4 linked regions of the Homo sapiens genome follow. The protein of the gene in region 1 purifies or fractionates together with the protein of each later gene. This does not show direct contact. Each region holds a gene or a part of one and is shown in the gene's direction. Other genes may lie near its edges.

Region 1 (3,500 bases):
TTGCAACGCTCTGCTTCCCAAGGAAAGGGTAAGAGAGGTTGAGGGTAGCCCCCTGCCTAACTGCTTTGGCCAGAAGTGGAAAAAGTAATGCCCAGGCTAAATACACTAAGCTCATCCTGGGGCAATGGACATAGCACTTCCGTTGCCATTCCATCAGTGAGAGCTAGTGACATAGCCTGCCTAGGTGCAAGGCATGCTGGAAAATGGAGTCCCTGGCTAGGCAGTGGTTCCTGGTGGCAATGTGACAGCACAGAGGGGAAGTACAGCTTTTGGAAGGCAGTTAGCCATCACTACCACACTCGTCATCCATACAGAACACACCATCACCTGCCCTTGCCTCTTGACAGCAATAAAAAGACATCCCTGACCCTTGCCTTCTCAGAGTGCCCAGTCCAGTGGGGGGACCTGGCACCACACAGCGATGACCTAGAGTGGTTCGTACCAACCACAATGAGGAGCACAGGCCAGATGGGTCAGGACCGGGATGGGGGAGGCACAGGCAGAGGGGTGGGGGCTGGAGTTGGGGGAGGCACAGGAAGTTATGGGATCCCAGGGAAAGTGCCTGACTCACTGTGGGGTGAGCAGGGATTAAGGGAGGCTTCTTAAAGCAAGTGCCATTAAAGCTGAGGCCACTGAGAGGCTGAGGTGGGAGGATGGCTTGAGCCCAGGAGGTCGAGGCTGCAGCGAACCAAGATCATGCCACTGCACTCCAACCTGGGTGACAGGGCGAGACTCTGTCTCACCAAAGAAAAAAAAAAAAAGCTGAGACCAGAGGCTGAGCATGGTGGCTCATGCCTGTAATTCCAGCACTTTGGGATGCTGAGGCAGGAGGATCCCTTGAGGCCAGGAATTTAAAACCAGCCTGGGCTCTATTTAAAAAAAAAAAAAAGGCTGAGATGGGACAGGGGAAAAGGAGACAACCATCCAGAGAGCAGAGTGTTCCCAGCAGAGGGCAGGGGGTGTACAAAGACCTGTAGTGAAGGTTTGGACCTGCAGACTTGAGTGTTGGTGGATACATCATTACCTTTATCAGGGGTTGCCAACTGTTTTCCAAAGTGGTCTATCCCCATTTTGTCCCCAGAGGGGTCTTTCTAAAGCACAAATCTGGTCAAGATATCCCTCCTACAGCTTCACAGCCCCCTCAGAATCAAGTCTGAACCCTTTGCTGAGCATCCTGTGGCCCCACGGAGTCTCCAGCCCTAGTCCCTTGCCTCTTCTTTCTCCACAATGTGCATACACCCTGTGTCCCCTCCTAGGTTCATACCCCAGGGATATGTTTACCCAACTCCAAGTGATAGGAGTCCTGACATCAATTTATTGGTTTCCAACAGGACTTTTTTTTTTTTTTGAGACAGAGTTTTGCTCTTGTTGCCCAGGCTGGAGTGCAATGGCACGATCTCAGCTCACTGAAGCCTCTGCCTCTGGGGTTCGAGAAATTCTCCCACCTCAGCCTCCCAAGTAGCTGGGATTACAGGTGCCCGCCACCACACCTGGCTAATTTTTTGTATCTTTAGTAGAGATGAGGTTTCACCATTTTGGCCAGGCTAGTCTTGAACTCCTGACCTCATGATCCACCAGCACTTTTTTTTTTTTTATGGAATAGATGATGTCAGTATGTCACAGATGGGAGGGATCCATATTATTTTGGGACACTTTTCTTTTTTTTCCCCGAGATGAAGTCTCGCTCTTGTCACCCAGGCTGGAGTGCAATGGTGTGATCTCGGCTCACTGCACCCTCCGCCTCCCAGGTTCAAGCAATTCTCCTGCCTCAGCCTCCCAAGTAGCTGGGATTACAGGTGCCTGCCACCACGCCCAGCTAATTTTTGTATTTTTAGTAGAGATGGGGTTTCACCATGTTGGCCAGGCTGGTCTCGAACTCCTGACCTCAGGTGATCCGCCTGCCTTGGCCTCCCGAAGTGCTGGGATTACAGCCATGAGCCATTGCGCCTGGCCTTGGGACACTTTTGTTTGACGTTTTTGTGTGCATTTGCATGAACGCCCAGTAGAAACTCTCTCTCTCTCTCTCTCTCTCTCTATATATATATATATATATATATATATATAATTTTATTTATTTGTTTGTTTAGAGATAGAGTTTTGCTCTTGTTGAGAATGGAGGCTGGAGTGCAGTGGCACAATCTCGACTCACTGCAACCTCCACCTCCTGGGTTCAAGTGATTCTCCTGCCTCAGCCTCCCAACTAGCTGGGACTACAGGCGTGCGCCACCACACCCAGCTAATTTTGTATTTTTAGTATAGGTGGGGTTTCACCATGTTGGCCAGTCTGATCTTGAACTCCTGACCTCAGGTGATCCGCCCCCCTCAGCCTCCCAAAATGCTGGGATTACAGGTGTGAGCCATCACGCCCAGCCACCAGTAGAAACAATTTCTTACTGTGGGTTGTGGTCAGTTCAAACTCTACTGCCCTAGAAACATTCTTACAGGTGTTCATTGAGCACAAAAATTAGAAACAGGCCAGGTGAGATGACTCACTAATGTAATCTCTGCACTTTGGGAGGCTGAGGTGGGAGGATCACTGGAGCCCAGTAGTTCGAGACCAGTCTGGGCAACGTAGTGAAACCCTATCTCTACAAAAAATGTTTCAAACTTAGCCAGGTGTGGTGGGGTGCACCTGTGGTCCCAGCTACCCAGGAGGCTGAGGCGGGAGGATCACTTGAGCGTGGGAGTTTGAGGCTGTAGTAAGCCATGGTCGTGCCACTGCACTCCAGCCTGGGCAACAGATCAAGACCCTGTCTCAAAAAAAAAAAAAAATGTCAGAACAGAGTTTATAACTAATAAACATATTTAAAAAGAAGGAAAAAAAATCAGAAACAACCACAGTATTCCTCAGCCAGATAAATGCACTGTGATAGATTCACGCAACGAAGTCCTTACACAGCAGTGTGAAATGAGTGACTGAGCTGGAGCGACACATGGCAACAGGGATAAATCGCAAAACCATGCTGGGCAAAAAGCACAAGTTGCAGGAGAACGACAGTAAATACCACTTCTGTGAAGTTTGAAAATATGCACACCATTACTCTAGATTGTTTACAGCTGTACACATACATAGAAAATATAGAAATGCATAAATGAGAATTTCAGGAAATAATTTAATAATGATTGTAGGAAAGAGGTGACCCTGGGGACCTGGGGGAGGTGTGATCAGGGCGGGATACACAGGAGGCTCCACGTGGATGGGGAGTATTTTTTTTTTTTTTTGAGACGGAGTCTCACTCTGTTGCCCAGGCTGGAGTACAATAGCACAATCTCGGCTCACTGCAACCTCCACCTCCCAGGTTCAAGCCATTCTCCTGCCTCAGCCTCCCAAGTAGCTGGGATTACAGGCACGCACCACCGCACCTGGCTAATTTTTGTATTTTTAGTAGAGACGGGATTTCACCATGATGGCCAGGCTGGTCTCAAACTCCTGACCTCATGATCCACCCACCTTGGCCTCCCAAAGTGCTAGGGTTAGAGGTGTGAGCCACCACGTGTGG
Region 2 (2,552 bases), on another chromosome or scaffold:
TAATAGCCCTATGAGCTTGATAAATTTGTTACTTTCACTTTATAGATGAGTAAATGGAGAAATAGATTAAGATGACTTGCACTAGGACACTAGGGTTTTTTTGGTTTTGTTTTTTGGGGGTTTTTTTGTTTTTGTTTTTGAGACAGTCTTGTGCTTGTCACCCAGGCTAGAGTGCAGTGGTGCAATCTCGGCTCACTGCAACCTCCGCCTCCCGGGTTCAAGCGATTCTCCTGCCTCAGCCTCCCGAGTAGCTGGGATTACAGCCACCTGCTACCATGCCTGGCTAATTTTTGTATTTTTAGTAGAGACAGGGTTTCACCATCTTGGCTTCCCAAAGTGCTGGGATTACAAGCGTAACCCGCCATGCCTGGCCCCGGCTAACTTTTGTATTTTTTGTAGAGACGGGATTTCACCATGTTGCCCAGGCTGGGACTGTTTCTGTTGACTCCCCCCTTACCCCTAGTTTTAGGTCACTTTTTTGCTGCTTTGCAAGTTTAGTGATTTTTTTTTTTTTTTAACTTCGATGCTGGACAGTGTGAATGTTAAGTGATGAATTTTATGGTCTTTCTTTAAAGAGTGTTGAATTTTGTCTTGGTAGGCAGCTAAGTTACTTGTGGATCAACTTGTTTTTAATTTTTTGTTTTTGTTTTTAAATTGTGAGATGGAGTTTCACTCTTGTTGCCTAGGTTGGAGAGCAATGGCACGATCTCGGCTCACTGCAACCTCTGCCCTCCCCCGGTTTAAATGATTCTCCTGCCTCAGCCGTCCGAGTAGCTGAGATTACAGGCAACTGCCACGATGCCCGGCTAATTTTTTGCAGTTGTAGAAGAGATGGGGTTTCACCATGTTGGCCAGGCTAGTCTCGAACTCCTGACCTCAGGTGATCCACCCGTCTGGGCTACCCACAGTGCTGGGATTACAGGTTTGAGCCACCGCGCCTGGCCGCTTTTAATCTTTATTAGGGCATGTCTAGGGTGGTCTATACTCTAGGACTGGTTTAGCCCTACTACTAAGATGTGAATTTTCTAGTATTCCTTCTGAATGTCCTGGTTTTTAGTGAGGCTTTTGCTCTCTGGCTAGTTGGCAATCACATTTTTCCCAGCTCTACTGAACTCTTAGAATTGTTCACTTTCTGGTAGGTGTTCTTTGCCTAGCTTTGTGGAATTTCTCACCCTAACACATGTAGCTTTAGCTTTCAGCCCAAGACTCAAGGAACACCTTGCAGATTTCTAGACCTCTTTATCTGTGTAGGTCCCCCTTCTCCAGTAGTCTGCTTTGCACACTGCAGCTGCCTTAGCTACCCTGAACTCTGATCTCTGCTGCCTTAACGTGATGGGACTGCTGTGCTCTGCTTGGGTTCTTCCTGCCTGCTCTGCTGCCTGGGACGTGCCTCTAGGTGGTAAGCTTAGGCAGTTGTCAGGCTCACATAGGCTGCACTCAAGTGTCACAGTTCTGGGCTGCTTTTGACTAGTGTCTGAAAACAGTTTTTTCGTATATTTTATGGAGATTTCTAATTACAATGAGAGGGCAGCTTTAGGAATGATTACTTCATCATAGGCCTATGTTGTTTAGTATTAAGTATAGGAAAATAATTGTGTCTCTGTCCAGTTGAATGGTAATATATTTTAAGACAGCAACTTAAAATTTTAAGATAGTCCGCTAGAACTTTCTTTGATGATGAAAATGTTCTGTTCCTGTGGGGTGTAGCCACTGGCCATACGTCACTATTGTATACGTGAAATGTGGCTAGTGCCACTGAAGAGATGAATTTTTAAATTAATTTAAATAGCTCTATGTGGGTAATGGCTCCTGTAATGGACAGTGTGGCTGAAGGTTTTCTCTCAGTATTAGAAAATCTCGACCTTACAACGTTTGCATTTAAAAAAGATGCCTGTGGTTGATCTTTAACATATTCTAATTTAGAAAAATATAGTTTTTTTAAGTATAAAAATAGTTGCATGTTCATTGGAGATCATTTGGAAAATGCAGAAAGCACAAAAAAAGTTGAGCACACATAATCCCAAAGATAAGTAAGATTAATATTTTGGTGTATTTCCTTCCAGTTTTCTATAAAGAAGAACCCACTTTAGTGAAAAATCGTTTGGTTTTATTTTAAATATTTCTCTCTCAAAAGGAAATATGTATGGATGGCAAGGTTAAAATTGTGAAAATTTGTATCCTTCCAGAATTAGCTTTATATTGTTATCAAATAATAGCATGGCCTAAACAGGCTTTCCTACCTCTATAGGCTGTATATGTGTAGCAGTTTCAGGAATAACATATTAATCAGGAAGCTTTTTTTTTTAGTCTATTAGTTGCAGACTGGTGTTTAATAGAAAACTTATTTGGCTATTGGCTGCTTTTTGACTTCAGCTGGAAGGAAGCTCAAACATAATATTTGGCTCATTTCCACATAAGACTAAGGGTTACTGACTCTGGTCTGAAGACTGCTTGCAGTTTAGTCGTCTGAGTGACTCCTGTGGCTGAGGATGTGCTGGGTGCTTAGAATCCAAAGGTCTGGCTAGGCTTAAGGGGTTCATGGTCTAGTTAGG
Region 3 (3,500 bases), about 33 Mb from region 1:
GCCTGCTGTCCTGTACTGCCCCCTGCCTGCAGCCGCAGGAGGGCACAGGGTGGCCCTGGCGCCGCCGCTCACCCCAGGGCCCACCCTCTTCCCCAGGGAGGCCCTGGGGGTCGTGCTGCACAAGGACTCCAAGTGGTACCAGCAGTGGAAGGACTTCAAGGAGAACAACGTGGTGTTTAACCGTGAGTGAAGGTGTCTTGGAGGGCAGGTGACTGTGTCCCGGGCAGTTGGTGGACCGCAAGGTGATCCCCCTGCATTGGGCACAAGACAGCCCCGTTTTGCAGAGGAGGAGATCGGGGTCAGAGTGGGCCGGTCACTTCTTTGCGGTCACATGATGGTGGGGCTGTAGATTCTGCCGCCAGAAGCCAGGTGCTCCCTCATAAGCACAGTCAGGGCCCCGAAACGAGCCGCAGGCCCCTGTCCCTTGTCCTGTGAGGACTGCTAGAGGCCTGTGTTTCCTTTGTAGTGAAAGCAACAGCCAGTGGGGTGGCGGCCCATAACTTACACAGCCCCATTAGGGCCGCAGCTGAGGGGCCTCTGCGCCTGGCCAGGTAGGTGGGCAGGCAGCGGTCCCCAAGCACAGATGAGGATGCAGGTCCACAGCCGTCCCCTCCCTGACCCCACCCGTGTCAGGGTGGATCCCGCAGGGGTCACAGGGAGCCTCTAGAAGCTGTGAGGGAGGGTTGTGTTTCTGGAAGGGGCCCCTTCTCCAGCACCTACCCCATCTTCCACAGGGTTCTTCGAGATGAAGATGAAGTATGACGAAAGCGACAACGCGTTCATCCGGGCATCCCGGGCCCTTACGGACAAGGTCACCGACTTGCTGGGTGAGTGAGTCATCCCTGGACCTCGCAGGCTGGTGGTGGGGCGGGGTCCCCGGCCTTCCCCCCGAACTCCCGGCTCTGCTCCCTGCAGGGGGCCTGTTCTCCAAGACAGAGATGTCGGAGGTGCTCACGGAGATCCTCCGGGTGGACCCGGCCTTTGACAAGGACCGGTTTCTGAAACAGTGCGAGAACGACATCATCCCCAATGTCCTGGAGGTGGGTGCCACACCCCCAGGACCCCTCCCAGGCGGCAGGTCCTGGCTCCACCACCTCCCCCGCCGCAGCCGGCACCCTGGGTGCTGCCAGGGAACTCTGCTGCCGAGGCTGTTTTCTGAGGAGGCTGGTTGCACACGGGCTCCTGCCCGGCTGCAGCTGCCCCATGAGCTGTGCCCGAAGCCCTTCCTGGGCCTTACCGGCACCTCCGGTACCTCCAGGTCTGTTTCCCTCACTCCTCCTGCCTGAGGCTGTTGTTCCTTTGAGGTTGCTGGGAGCAGCTGCTGGAGGCTAGGGATTGTCTCAGGTGCCTGGAGCCCCTCACCCCTTGGGAGAAGTGGGCGTCTGTCTTCAGACATCAGAGCTGGCCCCAGGCCACGTCTGACCCAGAGCTGCAGCCGTGAGGTTCCCTCACGGTGCTGTCCCTGGCAACCAGACCCTTGTTGGGCTTATAGATGAGGGTATCTTGCTCAAGGTCATGCTGCAGCCTGCCCCCTATAAGCCTCTCCCTGAGGTTGGTGGCCTCTTGTCTTCCCTGCTGCCTCTGCCTCTCTGCAGCCCCCAGGATGCAGGAGGAGCCTGGACACCTTCGGCCCAGTCGGGCCAGGCCTCTGGAAGGCCCTTCATGGGACTCTCCATCCTTGGCCCCGCCGGCCTCCGCCCAACGTCCTCTTCCTCCTCCAGTTTCCCGTATCCTTCCCGCCACTTCGGGCAGGGCTGGGAGGTGGTGCGGATGGGCGCCATGCCCCAAAACAGCAGCCTGAGCACCGCAGTGCCTTCCGGGATGGGTGATGGGTGCCAAGTGTTCTGGCCACCCGCCCCCTGCCGCTCACAGCTTTCACCACCAGCATCCGGCTCCTTCCCGCTCTTCTCCCCGCTCCAGGCACCTCCCTCCCCCTCATCGGATCCGGCCCAGGCTCCAGGATCCTGTGGAAGCAGCTCCCAGCCCAGGCACGCCCCCTGCAGCCCACCCCTCCCTCTCGCTGCCCCCAGCAGTTAGGAGGCAGCCGGTCCCATGGTGGGCCTTGCAGTCCGAAATGTGGTCCCCTGGGGGGACAGAGGACATGGGCTCACTGCGGGAGCCGGAGTTGGGTCCTCATCTCCCTGGCTTGGATTCCTGACCAGGCTGAAAGCTGGGTCCCCAGCCACCTTTCTCTTCCTCCACCAGGTTCCAGGGGGGTCCCCCTGTGGGGTGCCTCCTGGGTGGTCGCCCGCAGGCCGCCCTCCGCCTGTGCCTAGGCCAGAGCCAGGCACTGACACCAGCAGGGACGGGCCTGGGGGGGACACCCAGTGCCACAGCTCCACCCGCGCCCCACAGGTGGCAGCCGGGGGTGTCTGAGGAAACTCCCCACCCCGCACCACTGGAGAATGTTCCCAGGACCTCGCCTGCTGCCTGAAAAGCCCACTCTCGTTCTGGTGCTTATTTTCCCTTCCTTTTTAGGCCATGATTTCTGGAGAGCTTGACATTCTCAAAGACTGGTGCTATGAAGCTGTGAGTACTTCCTTTCTTTTTCTTTTTTTTTTTTTAAGGCCTAAAAAATCACCATGGAGAAGTTCCACTTCGGTGGCTCCGTTGGGGTAGCTCCCAACAGGCAGGACCTGGGCTCCCGGTGGGGGAATCCTCACGTCTCACCCTCCGAGAGCCTGACATCCCCCCCTGCCCCTTTCCATTCCTCAGCATGTGACACATCTGGGCTCTCAGGCTGGACACCGGGTCACCCGCCAGTCCTTTGCTCCCAGACTGTAAACTTTGTTAGGGAGAATCCTTCTCTGGGCTGGTGTCTAAGAGATGGCTGGTTGGGGGTGTCCCCTGGGCCTGTGAGAGATCACAAAGCTGCCAATTTTACTGGGCCTTTTTTTTCCCTCCAATCTTAAAATAATTTTGGTTAGGTCTGGGCACGGTGGCCTATGCTTTCAATCCCAGCAGCCCAAGGCGGGAGATTGCTTGAGCCCAAGCATTCAAGACTAGCCTGGGAAACATAGCAAGATCCCGTCTCTACAAAAACATTTAAAATGAGCCAAGTGGCAGGGTGCGGTGGCTCATGCCTGTAATCCCAGCACTTTGGGATGCCAAGGCAGGCGATTGCCTGAGCTCAAGAGTTCGAGACCAGCCTGGGCAACATGGTGAAACCCCATCTCTACTAAAATAAAAAGTTAGCCAGGCATGCTGGTGCATGTCTGTAATCCCAGCTACTGGGGAGGCTGAGGCAGTAGAATTGCTTAAATCCGGGAGGTGGAGGTTACAGTGAGCTGAGGTCGCGCCACTGCACTTCAGCCTGGGCAACAGAGCAAGATTCTGTCTCCAAAAAAAAAAAAAAAAAAAAAAGAGCCAAGCATGGAGGCAGGCACCTGTTGTCCCAGCTATTAGGGAGGCTGAGGTGGGAGGATCACTTGAGCTCACGAGGTCAAGGCTGCAGTGAGTCATCGCAGCACAGCACTCCAGCCTGGGTGACAGATCAAGAC
Region 4 (4,240 bases), on another chromosome or scaffold:
TATGTAGTTCGCAAAAAGTAAATAACTCAAGGAGTTAACTCCTCCAGTGTAAACTATTTGAGCTGGAAAACTGCACTTGACTTTCTTTTTAAAGCGTCATTAATCTGTCAGAAAACAGCTGAAAGTAGGTGTGATGTGGAAGGGCTGATGTGACCACAAGTATTTGCCATCACTTTCCTGGTGAAGGATCCATTTTCTCACAGGGATAATCTCAGATGGCTCTGGGTTTTTTTTTTTTTTTTTTGAGACGGAGTCTCGCTCTGTCGCCCAGGCTGGAGTGCAATGGCACGATATCGGCTCACTGCAACCTTCGCCTCCTGGGTTCAAGCAATTCTCCCACCTCAGCCTCCTGAGTAGCTGGGATTACAGGAGTACGCCACCACACCTACCTAATTTTTGTATTTTTAGTAGAGATGGGGTTTCACCATGTGGGTCAGGCTGGTCGCAAACTCCTGACCTCGTGATCCACCTGCCTCGGCCTCCCAAAGTGCTGGGATTACAGGTGTGAGCCACCACGCCCAGCCGGCTCTGTGCTTTTGAATTCATAACTTGAGAGGATGGCCTGATAGGAACCTGACCAGAGGTTATCTATGCAGTGCCATCCTTAATCACGGCCGGGTGCGGTGGCTCACGCCTGTAATCCCAGCACTTTGGGAGGGCGAGGCGAGAGGATCACTTGAGCCCAGGAGTTTGAGACCAGCCTGGGCAACATAGGGAGACCTCATCTTTACTAAATTAAAAAAAAGAAAGAAAGAAAAGAAAACCCTCAAGACTTTAAAGCACCCACGGACTAGCAACAGCTAGAAGCTTTATCACCACGAGGCCTGAAAGAACAAGGAGACGGAGCTGTTACCAACTAACAATTGCTGCTCAGGGAACTAACTGACAATACCAACTCCATGTTACAAGTGATGAAACTAAGGAGAATGAGAAGATAAGGAACACAGGATGTGGAATTCCGGGGGAAGAAATTTAGTGAATCTGAAGCATCCAGCGCCTACCAAGGCACTTTAGAGACTTCCCCCTGGAGGGTTAAGCCACCAGCCTCACCTTGACCTTCCCTGCCGCCCACTAAAAGTGACCGGAAGAGCTCGACTATGACGACTCGGGACTACAAGTCCCGGCATGCATCTCTCCGCGTCTATCGCAAAACCTTTCAACTTTAGGATAAAAGGGCTTTTGGCAACCTTGAGCGTCGGGACCTGTAGTCGCCCCAGTTGGGGCTAGACGCTTGCCGTAGGGAACTCATTGGCGCCCAGGGCACCACCCCCTCGCCTTCGCCTCACGTAGCTTCACCAGCTCGCAAACACGGCGCGTGCCCACGCCCTCCGCCCCCTCCCCGGGCCTAGGGCGCAGGCGCGCGCAAGCTCCCCGGGCCCAGTAGGCTGGGGGTGGGGGTAGAAGGAGAAGGAGGGGAAGGGAGGGGGGGGTTGGGTGTCTACTCTGGTGAATAGACGGCTGTGGGGCAGAGAAGCGTGAAGGCCTGGCTGCCGGGCAGGTGAACTCTCCACGGGGTCTAGGGCCCGCGAAAGGGTTCGGAACCGAGTCAGCGCGCCTTGCGGGCAGGATTCACGCCGCTGTGACCCGGAGGTCCTCAGGGGGCGAAGCCCCGGCCTAGGCCTCGCGGAGATGCCCAGCTGCGGTGCTTGTACTTGCGGCGCGGCGGCCGTCCGGCTCATCACCTCCTCACTCGCCTCCGCGCAGAGAGGTAACGAAATAGTGCCACTCCTGAGCCCTCAGCCTGTCGGGGGGGGGGTGGACTGGCCAATGGTTGGGGGCCCCGGGGAGGGCACGAGGCCTGCTGCACCCGGGGAGTGTGAGGGAATGCGCGGCGCTTCGCCCGGCACCCACCACTTTCCCCGTGGAATGGGGCTCTGCCAACCTCTGGAGCAGCCGTTGCTCAAATTGGAAGTAAACTCCTTCCCACGCGCCTGCCTGCACGCTTTCAGGCCTGCTGACTTTGGGGCCGGAATGCGGCCACTTTGTAGAAACCCTGAAAGGCACAAAATGCTCCTGTTATTAAAAAATGTCTCCAGATCCCACTCAGCCCTGCCGGGGACCGCCGCCTGCCATGGCTGCGGCTCTTCTTCCGCAGCCTGGCCGGGATCCCCCTCGGGCCCGTTGGGGGCTCCAGGAGGGGCTCGGCTGAGGATCTGTCCCTACTAGGGTCCCCCAGGACTCGGGGCACCCAGCTGGCCGTCCCGGACGCAAGCCGCGCGATACCCGAGATGTTACTATCACTGTGCGGCCCTGACACTGGGACATAAACAAGGTTCACAATACTTCCCGGCGTCAGGCAAGCCCCGGGGCCCGCAGGACAGCGGCGGGAGAGATGGGGAGAAGTCCCGCAGGAGTTGGTTCGGAAGTACTTGGGTGTTTCAGCAGTCCTTTGCTGGCTTTCCCAACTTGACCGGGAGGTAGTTTCCTAAGAGTGGCGCATGTTGTTTACCTTTTCTTTCTGTTTATCTGAAGCTGTGAAAGAATGGCGCCCCAGCCAAGAGAGTCTGGAAAATAAACTTTTTTTCTCTTCCTCAAATCTGTGGAAGTCAGACCACGAGGCTAGATCCTGTTATAATGACTGACTTCTAGACAAATTCGTTTTATTTTGGCTTATCGGTTTATGACCCTTGGATGGATTTTTAAAAAGGCCCCTTTTATCTAACTTCTAAGCCAATTATAAAATCCTTATTGTTTACTAAATATATCTTCCAGTTTCTTTACTACAGAAGGAAGGATTGAATGAGGTAACGTGGGCAGAAGCATTTTGTAAAATGATATATAAATGTAAGGGAGTAAATTTAATCCTAAATCGATGTTAAGCCTCAACCAGTAGATGTCCCGATTCCAGGAATTCGATTTGCAAACACTTTAAAGTGACATATTTTAATCCATTTATCTGATATATATTAATATTTGTCAAGGGTCCACTGTGTGTCAGGCCTTCTTTTAGTGCTGGAGGTAGAGTGGTGAATAAGTCCTCACCCTCATGTTTAAATCTAGTGGAGTAGACAAAGAATAATACAGTTTCCAGTGGGTGGATGAAGTATGTGTGTGTTCCCTTTGGTCAGGGACGGCTTCTTTGAAAGTGTTACTGATCTCTTGTAGCCAAGAGTCCGTGAACATTTTTGAATCATAGGAGATAGGCAGTTATTTTTTTTTCTTTTCAAAACGACTGTTTTCTTTCTTTTTCTTTTCTTTTCTCCTTCCTTCCTTCCTTCCTTTCCTTCCTTCCTGTCTTTCTTTCCTTTCTGTCTTTCTTTCCATCTACTATCTGTCTTTCTGTCTGTCTTATTTTCTTTCTTTTTTTTTTTTTTTTTTTTTTGAGACAGAGTCTCGCTCTGTCGCTCAGGCTGGAGTGCAGTGGCCAGATCTCAGTTTACTGCAAACTCCGCCTCCTGGGTTCACGCCATTCTCCTGCCTCAGCCTCCCGAGTAGCTGGGACTGCAGGCGCCCGCCACCACGCCTGGCTAATTTTTGTATTTTTAGTAGAGACGGGGTTTCACCGTGTTAGCCAGGATGGTCTCGATCTCCTGATCTTGTGATCCGTCCGCCTCGGCCTCCCAAAGTGCTGGGATTACAGGCGTGAGCCACCGCGCCTGGCCTCTTTTTGTGTGTCTGTCTTGATGGAATCTGCTAAGTTGCCCGGGCTGGAGTGCAGTAGCGCGATCTCGGCTCACTGCAACCTCCGTCTCCTGGGTTCAAGCAATTCTTCTGCCTCAGCCTCCTGAGTAAGCTGGGGTTACAGGCGCGCGCCACCACGCCCCACTAATTTTTATATTTTTAGTAGAGACGGGATTTTGCCATGTTCGTCAGGCTGGACTCCAACTCCTGGACCCCAGGAGATCACCCGCCTTGGCCTCCCAAAGTGCTAGGATTACAGGCTTGAGCCACCGCACCCGGACTAGTATTTCTTTTTAAAAACAGTTGTTCTGAAATTTAGAAAGCTTTGTCTGTATGATAAAGTTCTGTAAATAGTGAAACTTAAATTGTCTTTTCTGGTTGCTGCCAGGTAATCTGGTGAAATATACTTTACAGAAACACTTCTCTTTTTTGGCTTTCAGAGCTTCACCTGGGGTTTACAGGCCTCCAAAGGGTCCTTGAATAGAATTCAGAGATTCTGTGAACTTTATTTTCACTAAGCTCTAACTGAAACACAACGTTTCCTTGGCCTATGAATGTGGGCAACACATCCACAGTAGTCTTAGAAGTGTCTGTGGATTTGTCATCAATCAAAATCAGA

The links. The genes of interacting proteins can lie anywhere in the genome.
Region 2: the proteins of COQ8B (region 1) and GOLPH3 purify together in Homo sapiens (affinity purification with mass spectrometry; one large-scale study listed by BioGRID and IntAct). This does not show direct contact.
Region 3: the proteins of COQ8B (region 1) and TIMM44 purify together in Homo sapiens (affinity purification with mass spectrometry; one large-scale study listed by BioGRID and IntAct). This does not show direct contact.
Region 4: the proteins of COQ8B (region 1) and CLPX purify together in Homo sapiens (co-immunoprecipitation; one large-scale study listed by IntAct). This does not show direct contact.

The regions. Positions count from the first base shown.
Region 1 is NC_000019.10:40,696,387-40,699,886, reverse strand, and holds part of COQ8B (atypical kinase COQ8B, mitochondrial), read left to right. Parts: intron 1-3,500.
Region 2 is NC_000005.10:32,126,768-32,129,319, reverse strand, and holds part of GOLPH3 (Golgi phosphoprotein 3), read left to right. Parts: intron 1-2,552. UniProt on the Homo sapiens protein: Phosphatidylinositol-4-phosphate-binding protein that links Golgi membranes to the cytoskeleton and may participate in the tensile force required for vesicle budding from the Golgi.
Region 3 is NC_000019.10:7,930,167-7,933,666, reverse strand, and holds part of TIMM44 (mitochondrial import inner membrane translocase subunit TIM44), read left to right. Parts: intron 1-96; coding exon 97-182; intron 183-734; coding exon 735-827; intron 828-915; coding exon 916-1,040; intron 1,041-2,478; coding exon 2,479-2,529; intron 2,530-3,500. UniProt on the Homo sapiens protein: Essential component of the PAM complex, a complex required for the translocation of transit peptide-containing proteins from the inner membrane into the mitochondrial matrix in an ATP-dependent manner.
Region 4 is NC_000015.10:65,182,543-65,186,782, reverse strand, and holds the start of CLPX (ATP-dependent clpX-like chaperone, mitochondrial precursor), read left to right. Parts: upstream 1-1,440; 5' UTR 1,441-1,629; coding exon 1,630-1,708; intron 1,709-4,240. UniProt on the Homo sapiens protein: ATP-dependent chaperone that functions as an unfoldase.